2 separate regions of the Homo sapiens genome follow, and region 2 is linked to region 1. Evidence: fine-mapped expression QTL. Tissue or cell type: blood mononuclear cells. Region 1 holds a variant in brackets; the other region holds the start of a gene. All regions are shown on one strand. Distances are from middle to middle.

What was found. PIP is the estimated chance that this variant, and not a neighbour inherited with it, causes the effect.
Region 2: LSM11 starts here. The variant in region 1 is fine-mapped to the expression of LSM11 in blood mononuclear cells (TOPMed, PIP 0.99).

The regions. Positions count from the first base shown.
Region 1 is chr5:157,607,243-157,615,258 of GRCh38, reverse strand. No RefSeq gene overlaps it. Among named protein-coding and RNA genes, the nearest start is that of ADAM19, 35 kb to the right of the region's middle. RefSeq lists enhancers at 3,323-3,382, 3,563-3,642. The variant G/A (reference allele first, on the strand shown) is at 4,794.
Region 2 is chr5:157,740,888-157,748,226 of GRCh38, reverse strand. LSM11 (LSM11, U7 small nuclear RNA associated) reads right to left here and starts at 4,515. Exons shown (of 4, transcript NM_173491.4): 1 at 4,029-4,515. The coding sequence starts at 4,476. THG1L (tRNA-histidine guanylyltransferase 1 like) reads right to left here. Exons shown (of 6, transcript NM_017872.5): 6 at 6,778-7,339. RefSeq lists an enhancer at 3,652-4,152 and a silencer at 4,172-4,731.

The DNA.
Region 1 (8,016 bases):
AGCAATTGTTGCACTCTGAGAACGGTTCCCAACACATAGATAAATGAGTGGTGAGAGACTGAACAGGGAGGTTCAAACATCATTGCAGGAGGGTTTTCACACTAATAATACATATAAGCATAAAAATAATTTCATTTTTTCTGGCCAGAAGTGTTGGCTCATGCCTGTAATCCTAGTAATTTGGAAGGCTGAGGCAGGTGGATCACTTGAGTCCAGGAGTTTGAGACCAGCCTGGGCAATGTGGTGAAACCCCATCTCTACAAAAAACACAAAAATTAGCAGGCATGGTGGCACATGCCTGTAGTCCCAGCTACTCAGGGGGCTAAGGTGGGAGGACTGCTTGAGCGTGGGAGGCAGAGGCTGCAGCGAGCCGAGATTGTGCCACTGCACTCCAGCCTGGGCAAAAGAGTGAGAGCTTGTCTCAAAAAAAAAAAAAAAAAGAATTTTATTTTTTTCAAAGCACTCATTATTACCTGTAATTGTCTTATTTCCTCACTTATCTTTTCCCCACCAACCCCCACTACTAGAAGCTCCAAAAGAATGGGAACATTGTATCTCTTGCTTGATGCATTATCCCTAACACCTACCACTGTGCCTGCAATGTATTGCACACTCAGTAAATATTTGTTGAATTAATTAGTAGAAGGTACACTTTATTAAGCACCTAGTATATGCCAGTGTATTTGATGGTTTATGTGATTATCTCACTTAGTCCTTACAACAAGCTTGTAAATAAGTGTTATCATCTTTATTTAGCCAATAAAAAAATCGAAGACTTACAGAGGTGAAACAACATATCCAACACCACCCCGCAAGTGATGAAGAATTAAGACCTGAACTCAAGTCTGTCTGCCTCCAAACTCAGCACTCTTTCTGCTCTACCACGTTAACTTTGCTGACAAACAATCCTGGGGTAAGATCCACGTCAAGTAGAACTCTCAGGTTAAGTCCTTTCTTCCATAGATACAAACGCCCTGTCCAGATCCTGAGCTAGCTTAGGATTGGAAGAAAACATGAAAGGTAGCTAGCTGCAAGATTAAAGGGGCCACCAAGGCATCCCTAATTCCATTGCCACCTGCCAGAGCACAGTGGATCCCTGCTACCTTGCCTGTCTGCTTGTGATAACCACCCCCATTCCTGCCTGTTCTTTTGAGAGATCCTCCGGTTCTGGTGCGGCTGATCACAATAGTGCACCCGGTCACAGTGACTGGCCCAGGGCTCAGTGTCCTACCCAGCAGGCCAGTCAGAGCCTTCACAAGGATTTTTCTAAGTGGACTTTCCAGGGCAGGCAATTTTGCTTTCCTCATGGAAAATGATTCTCTAAGAATGTGAGTCTGGATCTACTTGTGGCCGTGTTCTCTGGGGTTTGGGTAAAACCCATCTTTGGGAGGAGCAAATCATCGCAACACAGAAGCAGAGACAGGAAGACATAGAGCCCGACTGTGTTTGAGTCTTTGGTTCCATTTCCTGCAGGGCTCATCCTCACTGGTTCTTGAACAGTTCTCTAGTTCAAGGTTTTTGTTTTTGTTTTTGGTTGTGGTGGTAGTGGGTTTTTATTTATTGCGAATTAGTCTGGACAAACTCAGGGACATATAAACAGGCCCCTCGTGTGACGCAAGAAGCCAGTCAAGGAAGTCCCTGAGCCTACTCTGGCTGGGAGGCTGCCTGATAATGATTAAAAAAAAAAAGAAGAAGAAGAAGAAAAAGAAGCCAGTCATCATCTTGAAGCCCAGGGAATGCTTTTCATACTGCACATTTTTCACCTATCAGCTTTGGGATCAGGCATATCTAGGAAAGACTCCTGGCTCCATCACTTTTAGGGCTGTGTGACACTGTGTAAGTAACTTCGCCTCTCCAAACTTCAGTTCTCCGTACAATAAGAATAATAATTGTACATACCTCACAGGATTGCTGTGGAAGGTTAATGATTATACACAGTATTGGGTGATAATAAATACTAATGTGTTTGTCATTATTATTAGCAGTAGTTATGTTCCAGTATTTCCCTCTTGTGTTATTAGCAATAGATCAATGCCTCCCCTCTCTGCTCTATTTTATATGTCTCTGGGACACCCAGCTGAAATCCTCCAAGCTGCTAGAACAAGGCCAAGCTTGAAAAAATGATTAGAAGGGAAATAAGTTTATCTTACTTAAGTATCCACTTGCACTAGTGTTTAGCTTCTCTCTCTCCTCAAGATGTGATGAGACAATTGTTAGGAGGGTACTGGCCACTACCACCTCCTCATGTTTGTATAAAGTCATTCAGAACACTTTGCTTTCTCCTTTGAGCTTCATGAAAAACACAAGTGAAAGGTGAACAAACTGAGGCCCAGTGAGGAGCAATTGACGTAAACAGCTCCTCTTAAACGGAAGAGCAGGACCCAGGTCTGCCAGAAAAGAACCTAATAATTTACGCTAGCTAGCTCCTGCCTGAGAGTGCTGCATACTCTCACATAATGGTGCCAGCATGGTGCAGAAGGTCAACTTCTGACTCCCTCTGGCCTGACAAGATTGTCCGGAGAACTGACGGATCCAGATTCACTCTCACTTGCCAAGCATCTTACTGAGAAGGTAAAAGGATCAAGCAGGTGATTTCATGGAGCTGGGTAGAAGCTACATGAGCACAGGCCCTGTGCTCCTGCTGCCCAAGTCTTGGGTAGGACCACACACATCTTGCAACAAATGGGCAGAGATCAGAGTAACCCTGAAGTAGATAAAGATGCTGAATATAAACAAAGATGATTAAAGAGGCTATGGATTCAGGACACTGAATTTTGCTGCAGTGAGAGGAACCCTGGAGTCAGCTTTCTAACAGCCTGGCCATGTTTAGTTTATCAAACCTGGGCAGAGCAAAAGCCTCGGGATCCACTCACTCCATCAGAAACAAGTCTGAACAAGCCAGGTACTGTCCATCCGATACCCAGGCGTTTTGACGGTTCCTCTGTGGCCACCAGCCAAATGTAAATGGAGAATTCCAAGTCATCCATCATGCTTTAGCCACGCACGAGGTTAATGCCCTGTCTTTTAAAAGCACACAAAGGGCCATTTGAGTAGGAAAGTCCCACCAAATCCTGCTGAAACACCCGGCCCACTTTCGGATCATTTTTCTGAAGTGTCTTGGTTTGAAGGCACAGCTGTTGCTGAGATCCCTGAAAACAGCCTGCTGTTCTCTGTGGAAGCTATGGTAGATTAGTGTGGTTCAGCTGAGATACAGTCAAGCCCTTCAGACTGCCCCTTCCTCCAAATAACAAGCTGCTGACAACCTGATGTGGATTTTTACCAAAGAATCCATGTTTGCTTGCCTGCAGGCAAAGCTGGGTGTAGATTGAACTTCATGCGTGACTTTAGGCATGTCATCTCTCCTCTGTGGGCCTTGAGTCAAGACAGGAATGGATCCCACTCCATGCTGGAAAGTCCACTAACAAATGTGCATTTAGCACTTCTGCTTTCCAGGAGGGTAATGAATAAATGTGGCCTTCTCTGAATCAACCCCAGTAGAGTGGCTTTCGGAGTTCCCCAAAACATGAGACATAAACCAAGGACAAAGCCAGGATCAGGTTTATGCCTGCAACAGCTGTGGCTTTCAGATTGTTTCAGGTTGAAGAGGCTGAAACAACAGCTGCAGATCTATTCTTTGTCCTTGGGCTTGGACATAATGGGTGCAAATACAATTGAGACACCACCACCATGGCCATTTTCTGCTTTAGTAAATCCTAAGTTATGTCTTGGGGTCTGTGAAGTAAGATGGAAAATTAGTCATTCAGTGCAACCTAACCAAAAATGAATACATGTAGTTAGGTACCCCCAACCCCTATGACTTTCCAAATTCAGATTAATATTTTTGCTTAAAGATGTGCCAGATTCATAGAGTTGTAAGAGCCCTTTACATTATGGAGTATACAGGAAGTGGATAGCCTTTCTAGGTCATTCCTCATTCTCATGTCTCTAGCAGACATTGTTAGTGGGTCACAGAGCTCTCACCTTCTATCAGACATTCCTTCTCATCACAGAGGTGGTCTGGGCAGTCCCGGGCAGTGATAAGGGGTTCGTACTCAAGATAAAAGTCGTTTGCCGTCCCTGACCTAGCCCAACTCATGCATCTGCTTTCCACAGATAGAAAACAGGGCCAGAGATGGGAAGAACCCGGCCAATGCCACAGAATGAATCAGTGAATTTGTGGGAAGCTAAATAAAAGGCCTAGAATTCTTACAAATGTCAAGGAAAAACCATATTACTGCTTACTTTGCCTATTGTGCTGTATTTGTTCTCTCTTTCGGTTTTCTAGATTATTTGAATTGGCTTTTCCTAATTTTCTGTTTTTTTTCCTTATCTAAAAGCAATACTCACTCTATAGAAGTACAAATAAATGAAATGAAAAAAAAAACCCACTCAAATACTCACACATAATAAAACCATTGGTGAGTAAGGTCTATATACCTTTTCTATATATATATATATGTATATAGATATTATCTGTAATATGGAAATAATTGAAGCTTCCTTCTTAGAATTTCTGGTTACAATAAATCCTTAACAAAAACACGATTTCAGGCCAGGCACAGTGGCTCATGATTGTAATCCCAGCACTTTGGGAGGCTGAGGTGGGCGGAATCACTGGAGGTCAGGAGTTCGAGACCAGCCTGGCCAACATGGTGAAACCCCATCTCTACTGAAAAAAAAAAAAAAAAAAAAAACAAAAATTAGCTGGGCATGGTATGTCTGTAATCCCAGCTACTCAGGAGGCTGAGGCAGGAGAATTTCTTAAATCCAGAATGTGGAGGTTGCAGTGAGCC[G/A]AGATTGCGCCACTGTACTTCAGCCTGGGTGACAGAGCAAGATTCCTTCTCATAAAACTAACGTGTTTCTGAAGGCGAACAAAATAAAAAAACAAACCACTATTTGTGGGGAAGGGGGGGATGAACAGAGGTTGTCTAATGGGTCTGAACATACAGTTAGATAGAAGGGAATAAGTTCTAGTGTTCAATAGTAAAGTAGAGTGACTACAGTTAACAATAATTTATTGTATATTTCAAAATAGCTAGAAGAGAAAATTTGAAATGTTCCCAACACAAAGAAATGATAAATGTTTGAGGTGATGGATATGCCAATTACCCAGATTTGATCATCACACGTTATAAGCCTGTATCAAATTATATGTACCCCATAAATATGCACAATTATTATGTATCGATTTAAAAATTGTACTTCAGGTCATACCCTCGAAATGGACCTACACTGCACATATTGTTTTGTGACCTGCTTTGCATAAATGTTCATCAATCATAATGTCTAAATATGTATTTAACTTCCGTTGTTAGTCATTCAGACAGACTGTTACCAAATTTTTGTTACTCTCAGTAATATCCAGGAGAAATCTCTGCTCACAAATGTAATTGTTTTCTTATGAAAATTTCTAGAGGGAATCTGGGTCAAAGGGCAAACACATTTTAAGGACTTTTGACACATATTGACACATTGCTTCTCAATAACACTCAAAGCACAGGACCTGCAGTGTATGAAAGATGAAAGGAGATGCCTTTTAGCAGCTTCTTCATCACGGGGTAGGGTATCATCACTTCTGCTGTTCTCTTATTCTCCTGTCTGTATGCTTTGTGTAGCAAGGTGGAATGTAGGATTCTCAAGGGTGAAACGGCATTTTTGCTGTATCCATGGTGGATGTAACTGAATGCATAACAGTGATAGTAATAACAAATTAATATTCGTGTAGAGTTTACTAAGTGGTAGGCACCAGGCATCAGCTCCTAGGGTTGACAGCTCATTTTGTAGGGGAAGCTCAGAAAGGAAGAGCAACTTACCTGATGCCACACAGGGACAGAGCTCAGCTAAGCCTGACAAGAGCCTGCCCCCTAAGGCCCTTTGCTATGCCGCCTCCATGTAAGCAGTGCAAATAAATATTTGTGCATAGGTTGAATCATTCGTTATTTTCCTCTGGTAGAACAACACGAGAAACTCAGAAGGAGGCAGCCATAAAAATGGGCTAAAAAATGCCAGCTGAGTTCTCCCGGTCAGTCCTGACTTGAATAGTCCCAAAGGATTTGAGCAATGCTAGGTTTGAGGCTATGGCCCGAGGGAGTATTTTAATGAAGGGTTTCTTATGACTGAGAACTCTAAGAAGGAAGCTTGAATTATCCCCGTATGAAAATACAGCCATCTAAGATTATCAGTGGCATTTCCTTTTTATAGTGTTTGGCACTAATAATAGCCCCAAACTCCTTAACCCAACTTTCCAGCTTTTTAAAAGAACAGTACTTAGGAGAATGTCTGAACGCTGGGACTGACGGGACTTATTCCATCTAGTGCTTTCTCCCCGAAGGAGAAGGGGAAGGGGGCTCGGGGTTGATGGCTGCCTGCCTGCGTGCTGTGAGCCTAGATTCTTAAGGAAGTGAGGTGGGGCACGTGAGTCTGGAGGAGGAGAAAGGCCATGAGGTTTTTTATGGAGAACTCAGAACCAAGTCAGCAATGATCTGTCCTGGGCTCCAGGCCCTCTCTCCATGCTCCGTGGCAGCCCTGTTCCCGTTAGGCCCGTGGTCAAATTTCTAATAGGGGATCTGAGAAGCAATTGGCCAGCCTCTCCGAGCGCGCCTGAAAGGTCTTCGCAAAGCTGAGAGCGATTTTACAAACTAATGTGTTTCTGAAGGTGCCCTGTCCTTTCTCACTTCCATGTTTCTCCCACAGCATACCTGGTAGCAGGCCCTCTTCCTGCCACGTGCTTGTGGAACAGTTCATTACGTTTCAAAGCTACTTCTGTAAAAATCATTTTTTGAGGTACAATCGACATATATTAATATATCTCCATTTTAAGTGCACATACAACTTGATAATTTTTTTTTTTTTTTTTTTGAGACAGTCTCACTCGGTCACCCAGGCTGGAGTGCAGTGGCTCAATCTCGGCTCACTGCAACCTCCGTCTCTAGGGTTCAAGAGATTCTCCTGCCCCAGCCTCCCAAGTAGCTGGGACTACAAGTGCCCACCACCGACCCAGCTAATTTTTGTATTTTTAGTGGAAACGGGGTCTCGCCATGTTGGCCAGGCTGGTCTCGAACTACTGATCTGAAGTGATCTGCCCATCTCAGCCTCCCAAAGTGCTGGGATTACAGGCATGAACCACTGCCCCCCGCCACAACTTGGTGAATGTTGACAAACGTCTGCACCTGCCCCAATCAAAATTTAGAACATTTCCATTCCCTCAGAAGTCTCCTGCCACCTCCAGCCAGTCCCCTCTCTCACCCCAGCCCCAGGCAACCACAGATCTTCCTGTCAGTATAGCTTAGTTTTGCCTTTTCCGGCAGTTTCACATACGTTGACTCATAGAGTTGTTTCTGGTTTCCTTCACTCAATATAAAGAAAGGAATCATCAATGTTGTTGCATATATTAATAGTTTTCATATTACTGGGTAATAAACTATTGTGTGGATGTACCACAATCTATCTGGAATTTGAGTTATTGCCAGTTTTCGATTGCTATGAATACAGTTGCTATGCACATTCATGCACAAATCTTTTTGTGGGCATATAGCATATAGGAAGTATGTGGCCTTTCTGGGTCATTCTCATGTCTCTAGCAGACATTGTTAGTGGGTCACAGAGCTCTCAATTTCTATCAGACATTCCTTCTCATCACAGAGGTAGTCTGGGCAGTCCCTGGCAGTGATAAGGAGTTTGTACTGAAGACAAACGTCGTTTGCCATCCCTGACCTAGCCCAACCCATACATCTGCTTTCCACAGATGGAAAACAGGGCCAGAGATGGGAAGAACCTGGCCAGTGTCACAGAGTGAATCAGTGAACTTGTGAGAAGCTAAATAAAGGGCTTAGGTGATTCATTTCTCTCAGGCTAGTAAATACCTAGGAGTTGAATTGCTGGGTCATAGGGTAAGGGATAAATAAACTGCCAAACTGTTTTCTAAAGCTGAATATTCTTCTAAGTGATATCTCACAGTGGCCTTACTTTACAATTCCGTGATAACTAATAATGTTGAACATTTTTCATGTATTTGCT
Region 2 (7,339 bases), 130 kb before region 1:
GAAATGAAACCACAAACTGTAACAGTCACCTTATGAGTCTGCAATGGAAAAATATTTTCTCTTTTCTCTGAAAATAGTTTTAGTTGCCATTCTATAGAAGGGTGCCATGACAGATTGAAAGTACAATGTTTGAATCAGTGACCCGGCAAAGGCACATCAGTGTCTTCCCTATTGTGATGCTATGTCAAACTGGCCTAAACACACACACACACACACACACACACACACACACAGCAGTGTGGTGCAGAAATCATCTGAGACTATTCCTTAGTTGCACTGGAGACAGCTGACTGGAAACAGCTGCAATGAGCTGAGAAAAGTGACAAGGCTGAATTTTAAGCTTGGCCTTTTCTGAAGCCTAAGTACCGCTGTTCTCGGTTTTATGTAAGTCATACTCATGCCCTTTTGGCAACCTCTGTGTAACAGAGATGCTGTTCAAATTTGAGAGTTCATTTTACTGCTGTACACAGGGCTCAGATGTTCTTGATTTTGCCTATTTTCTTGCTCTTTATTTGCAGGAAGTGAAGTCAAAGTTATCCAAAGAATATCACTTTATTAAAATGAAAACATCAAGACACCATATTGTGGGAAATTATTTCAGCAATCAAAGTAAACTACAACAACAGGACTCAAACAAATTTTCAATCATGGTATCACGTCAGAGGCCCAATAAATCAGGTTTGTTTTGAAATCCTTCTCAGCAGGATGTGTGCGAGTAAAAGGACTGTGTAGGCTCCCTGCAGGAAAACTGAATTTGGAACTGGAGACAAGCCATTCACCTAGACAATGGTCTAGGAGCCAAACCCTGCATGTCATATGCATTTTGGATTGACCACACACACTTGTTCACACCGGCACAGGCTGCACACCAACACACCTGTAGCTAAAACAAAGTAATGATAACACTTTTTCTTACAGCTTTATAATGTCAAGACGTGAGCTTGAACACACCAGTTCATTTCACAGTGACAGATATACCTAGAAAAAGCTTGCTTGAAGCACAATTATAAACCAGAACCACCGTGGGCTAGGTATGGTGCTGCGATACTAAGGAGAAATATAGACACTAGAATTATGTGGAAAAGAGGATAATGCTCTTTAGTCTTGTCTTACCATCTCTATAGGCATGTCAATATTAAAAAGGAGGAAAAGCAATTGCATTCCACTTGCAAGTACAGCTTGTGTGTGAGTTCTTTGTTGGTATCAGTGATGGCTTAGGCTTAATGATGACGAAAAACCTTTCCTCCTATGCTTTTTTTCTTCTTTAGTATTCCCAGTATTGCAACAGCCTCCTATACTTTTATTATTACTTTTTTTTGAGACCTCGTATCACCTCTGTAGAGGTCTCTATGATGTCCCTATGATCTCGGCTCACTGCAGCTTCCACTTACAGGGTTCAAGCGATTCTCGTGCCTCATCCTCCTGAACAGCTGGAACTAGAGGCAGATGCTGCCATGCCCAACTAATTTTTGTATTTTTAGTAGAGACAGGGTTTCACCACGTTGGCCAGGCTGGTCTTGAACTCCTGGCCTCAAGTGTTCTGCCCGCCTCGGCCTCCCAAAGTGCTGGGATTACAGGTGTGAGCCACTGTGCCTGGCTACTTTTAAAATTTTATTACTGCAAGGAAAAGAATACAACTGCTCCACAAGGGAATTCAAAGAGATTCTATGACAGAGATACAAAGTGAAATATTTTACAGTTAAAACACCATTACACTTAATTTTGCACTCCTTGTTTTTTCATAAACATTCCACACTGTCCTCTCTGTGAATTTGGATGGGTAACTTGGATCTGAATTGATGAAATACATCATTTTAAAGTCAGCGACAAAATGTAGCTCCTCATGTATTCTTCATTATGTTTCACTGATGATATGACCTAACAAAGCTTCTTCTTGCTGTTACAGCCTGATGGAACTTACATTTTATGTGAATATTTTGCAAAGGATTATGCATTCTCAAATGCATAGGCATTTTTTTCCAGAAAGCATTTGTATATGTCCACAAATAGTATTATCTTACTGGTATCTATATTTTGATTTTCCTGAGCAACTGTATCCAATCAGAGTTTAGAGTAGGCATATATTTTTTTAAATTAAAACTGTGGCATACATATAAAACATACCTAGTTCTTTTTTTTCCCCCCTTCCAACTTTTGTTTTTGGATCAGGAGGTACACGAAAGGTTTGTTGCAGGTGTAAATCGTGTGTCACTGGGGTTTGGTGCACAAATTATTTTGTCACCCAGGTAGTGATCACAGTACCCAATAGGTAGTTTTGTGATTCTCACCCTCCTCCCACCCTTCACCCTCAAGTAGGAACTCTTTCTTGAATGAATCCAATCCTCACCCATGTTTCTGTTGTTTTCTTGCTTTCTGAAGGTCATCAACTCTGTGCGACGTCAATGCCTTTCTCTCATGTACACTCAACTGTCTGCAGTGCCATGGTGAAAATTTTCAGTATGTAGGGCATATTCTCTGAGATCTTGATTCCAGGGATATATACTTAATCATAAGAAGTTGACAAAGCTGGTCTTCACACACTGTCATACCATTACAGTAAAGTGCTCTATAGGGAAAGCTAAAACCACCCACCACATAGCAATACACAGGAATATTCCTTTCCCTTGACAATCTTGGTAGCAAAGCAATAACTGGTAAAATAGAAATAAATGTTGCAATGAGACTTGGAGTGCATTTCAACTACCTAATGGTGGCAAATTGCATAGGCAAATTAAGGTCCCCCAAACTGCTCTCATTTTGGGAACAAGCATACTGTCTTTGTGTTACAGCCAGGCAAGCAGGCCGGGGTAAATCCTAGCTTGGGCAGGGATGCTGTGGCATGGTAAGACATCCAACGAAGGCACACGGAACAGCACAGAGCGTTTCAGGATGTTCTCTCTTAATAAACAAATTTCTAGGAATGAAGCAAAACAGTCCCTTGCTTGGCACACCTCTCCATCCAAAAGACAGTGACTTAATAAGGTAACAATTTAATTATCAGGATACAGATGCTTTGAATGGCTAAGTAGGTCATTGTGTTCACAGGGCAGATGTCAGAACTGCTTGCCAGATGACAAAAGAGATAACCTTAGGCTGTTTTTATTCCATTTATACAAGACCTAACTCACACATTAGAGCCTCTGCTGTTTACAGCTTTACTCTAAGGATCTATGAGGAGGCTCCAAGAAATTCCCTTGTGCCATTTACACCTTTAGAACTTAAAATAACCTGCACATATGGTAATATGAGCCTGACAGACACAGTCCTGCACCCAGCCAGGCAGAGTGGCTGTAAAACAGCGTCTGTGTTTTAGTGGCATTCTGTGCCTGCTGCATTTCAGCACTTGTGACTTAGTAATGTGAACATATGTGTATCAAGACTCTGCAGCCCTTCTGCTTATCGCACTCGAGAAGGAGCTGTCAATGTACAGGGGTTATGGGATTATGCGCCTGTGCTATCTGAACAAATCTCCCCACACTCCATCCGATCATCCTCAAATCCCACTGACCAAATACTCTCCTTCCCCTAATATTGGCTGTGCGCTCCCCCACGTCTCCCGTTTTCCGCCCCACCTTACCTCTCACTGTGGTCTCTAAGACCTCTCATCACCTCTGTAGACGTCCCTATGATGTCCCCCAAACTCTGTAGCCCCGCCACCTCTCCAGGTCCTCCATCAATCCTGTAGACCCTCTCGGCAGGCTCATCACCTCTGTGACCCTTCCATGGGCCCCGATTACCGCTGAAGACCTTTCCCACGGCTTCTTATGACCACTACAGCCTTACCACTCTCCCTCTGTTGCTCCTACAGCCCCTTTTCTTACTCAGGGTGACCCTCCCCACGCCCTCATTACCCACATTACTCAAGCAGATCCACCCCATAGTCACTGATGATCCCCGCAAATTTTCACCAAGGCGCTCCCGCAATACGTGCAGACCCGCGCCCGGCCACCGCCGCCCCGCAGACGCCCCCTCGGCAGCCAGCTTCCGGACGGCGGCTGCCCCGCTTCCCGCCCGGCCCGCGGACTCACAGGGCATTCGCGTGAGCACGTTGCGTGGCGCCTTCCTGCTCCGACCCGGACCCCTCCGGCCCGCTCCTGCGGCCCCGTCCCCTTCCTCTTTGGCCACCATGAGACGGCGGAGGCGCTGGATGCGCTCGGGGTCCGGGGCGGGCGCGTCCGGGCGGCGACGAGTCCTGCCCGAGGGCCCGGGTGCGGCGGGAACCCCAGAGCCCGCGGCCGCGCCCCGAGCCCGCCCGCGCCCGCGCCCGCCGCCCCGGACTCCGGTCCTGAGGAAGCTCTCGTACTCCGCCACGTTGTTGAAGCAGGGGGCATTGGGGTAGGGAATGGGAGGCAGGCGGGGCGCGTACAGGGCCAGCAGCGGGTCGAAGCTGTCAGAGCTGACATCCAGCCGCGGGCTGGGCGGGCGCGCGGGGCTCCCGGCGCCAGCCGACCTCGCCCCCCGCTCCCGCTCCTCCATGTTTGAAAGGCCCGCAAGCCGAGGCCGATGGGAAGAAGGAACGAAGCCGCCAGAGGGCGGCACTGCGCAGCCGCGGCGCGGGGTTGCACTGCGCCGAAGCGGCCGCGGGAGGGCAGCACCTGTCCTCGTTCCACCCGGGCCGGGGGGCGTGGTACGCGGCTCCGACCAGCCCGCGCCTCGCACCGCCTCCTCCCATAGCTGACAGGTTAACGCTGTCGACTGCTGCTTGACCTGCTCCAGCGCAGTTTCCCCGTCTGTATCATTATCACTTAGGGTGTTTGTTAATACTCTGGGTTCCCCGGGAATGAGCTCGGGATCGCATCCTAGCTTGAGCTGGCAGGAAGCGTCTGGAGGAAGGCAATGAATGTCTCAGTTTGCTTCCATGCTGAGTACTACTGATAGGGTGGGAAGAATAGCCTATCTGGGCTCAAAGTATTTAGCGTGTTTCTCGTCTGAAATATGATATAAATAGCACCTACCTTATAGAACTGACCTCAGGATGGAGAGATACTGCCTACAGAGCTCATAATAGATGCATGTCAGCCAATACTGGGTGTCTGTCCTCCATTTCCTATACCCTGTGCATAAACAAATTTGTGCTTAGTATCAAAGAAAATTCATTATATCACTGTCTTTCTAAGCATTGCTAACCAATTGGAAGAAACGAAGATCCAGCTCTTGGAGGAAACTATGGAAAATTCCCAAGACCTGATCATACCACTTGCTACTTTATAGTCTCAGTTCGGCAAAATATTTTTTGGTTGATTTTAAAATGACAGTCTACTCTTCGCGGAAGGCCCAGATATAACCTTCTCATCCAGCAGAGCCAAAATGTTTCCACTCACCTACAGGCCACACATCACTTGCCCGTCACCACATTCTCAAACTGCCATCAACTAGTATTCTCTGTACTAGTTGCTTTGTGTACATTTCAGTTTCCTTAAGACTTAGGAAGTCCAAGAGAATACTGGAGAGTACCTTAGAGAGCAAGATGAAAATTAATATACAACTCTGAAATATACCTTGGGATGAATGCATACTACAGCGAAGACAAAACCATCAAGCAGGCCGGGCGCGGTGGCTCACGCCTGTAATCCCAGCACTTTGGGAGGCCGAGGCGGGTGGATCACGAGGTCAGGAGTTCAAGACCAGCCTGGCCAAGATGGTGAAACCCCGTCTCTACTAAAAATACAAAAAATTAGCCGGGCGTGGTGGCACGCGCCTGTAATCCCAGCTACGCTGGAGGCTGAGGCAGAGAATTGCTTAAACCTGGAGGGGCGGAGGTTGCAGTGAGCTGAGATCGCGCCACTGCACTCCAGCTGGGGTGACAGAGGGAGACTCCATCTCAAAAAAAAAAAAAAAACAAAAACCATCAAACAGTGGCTTCTAATTGGTAGCAGTACAGGTTTCTTTATGGCACAGGTTTTGAACCCAGCTTATCACTTTGTTCAAAACCCCCTGCCTGAATAAAAAACTCAAAGCTGCAGAATTGCTGGCAATTCAACAAATGAGCGCTCATCCCCACATCATATGGCAAAACTGAGTGATAGCCTTTATAGTGTCATTTAAGACCCACAGAAAGCACGTTTCTCTGGGTGGTTTTCTTGAAAATTTGTACTCTAATGCCTACTTGTATTTTGATATAAAATGCTGTCAACTTACCATTAAGTTAAAATTGCCAATCAACAGCTACATTATCTTACTTCCTTCCCACCCAGCCTATCACAGTATACCGAGGGCCTTGCTGCCGAAGCTGCTGTATATTGACAACCACACATATCAGAAGCCTTTGGGGCTAAAAATCAGATTGCTGGCTGGGCGTGATGGCTCACACCTGTAATCCCAGCACTTTGGGAGGCTGAAGCGGGCGGATCACGAGGTCAGCAGTTCGAGACCAGCCTGGCCAATGTAGTGAAAACCCCCGTCTCTACTAAAAATACAAAAATTAAGCCAGGCATGGTGGTGCGTGTCTGTAGTCCCAGCTACTCAGGAGGCTAAGGCAGGAGAATCACTTGAACCTGAGAGGCAGAGGTTGCAGTGAGCTGACAGAGCGAGACTCCATCTCAAAAAAAAAAAAAAAAAAAAAAAAGATTGTTGAGCTTCAAACCTTTCTGGGGGCTGGGAGGAGCCAAAAATGTGCATTTTAAACAAGCATTCCAAGTAATTTTTTTTTTTGCATCCAGAAGTTTGTGAACCACTGCTATGATGAGGGCATGTGTATCCTAGGCTACCCAGAGATATACACAAAAGTTAGATTTCATATAGTCTATTTGTCTAAGAAAAATAAATGAAAAAGCAGGCCAAAGGAGTTGACATCTTTATTTCTTTCCTCAAAGAGATTTTAGCAATTACCAAACAAGAACCGTATCTCCTCTTTCTGTGGAGTGAGAACAGGAAGGGAAAAAATGGCATCGACAGATGGGTTGTCAATTAGTGAGGGATGAGGCCAGCCATCACCCTTTCAAAAATACATTTTCTTCTTAGATGTAAATTCTGCAGTGCAAGACGAGGGACTGGGACACGGGCTGTCTCTTAATTTTTTTTTTTAAGGCAGTTTTGCTCTGTCACCCAGGCTGGAGTGCAGTGGCATGATTTCAGCTCACTGCAACCTCCACCTACCAGGTTCAAGCAATTATCCTGCTTCAGCCTTCTGAGTAGCTGGTATTGCAGGCACACGCCACCACGCCCAGCTAATTTTTCTATTTTTAGTACAGACTGGGTTTTGCCATGTTGGACGTGCTGGTCTTGGACTCCTGGCCTGAAGTGATCTACCTGCCTCAGCCCCCCAAAGTGCTGGGATTACAGGTGTGAGCCACCATGCCCAGCCATGTCTTTTTTTTTTTTTTTTGAGATGTAGTTTCGC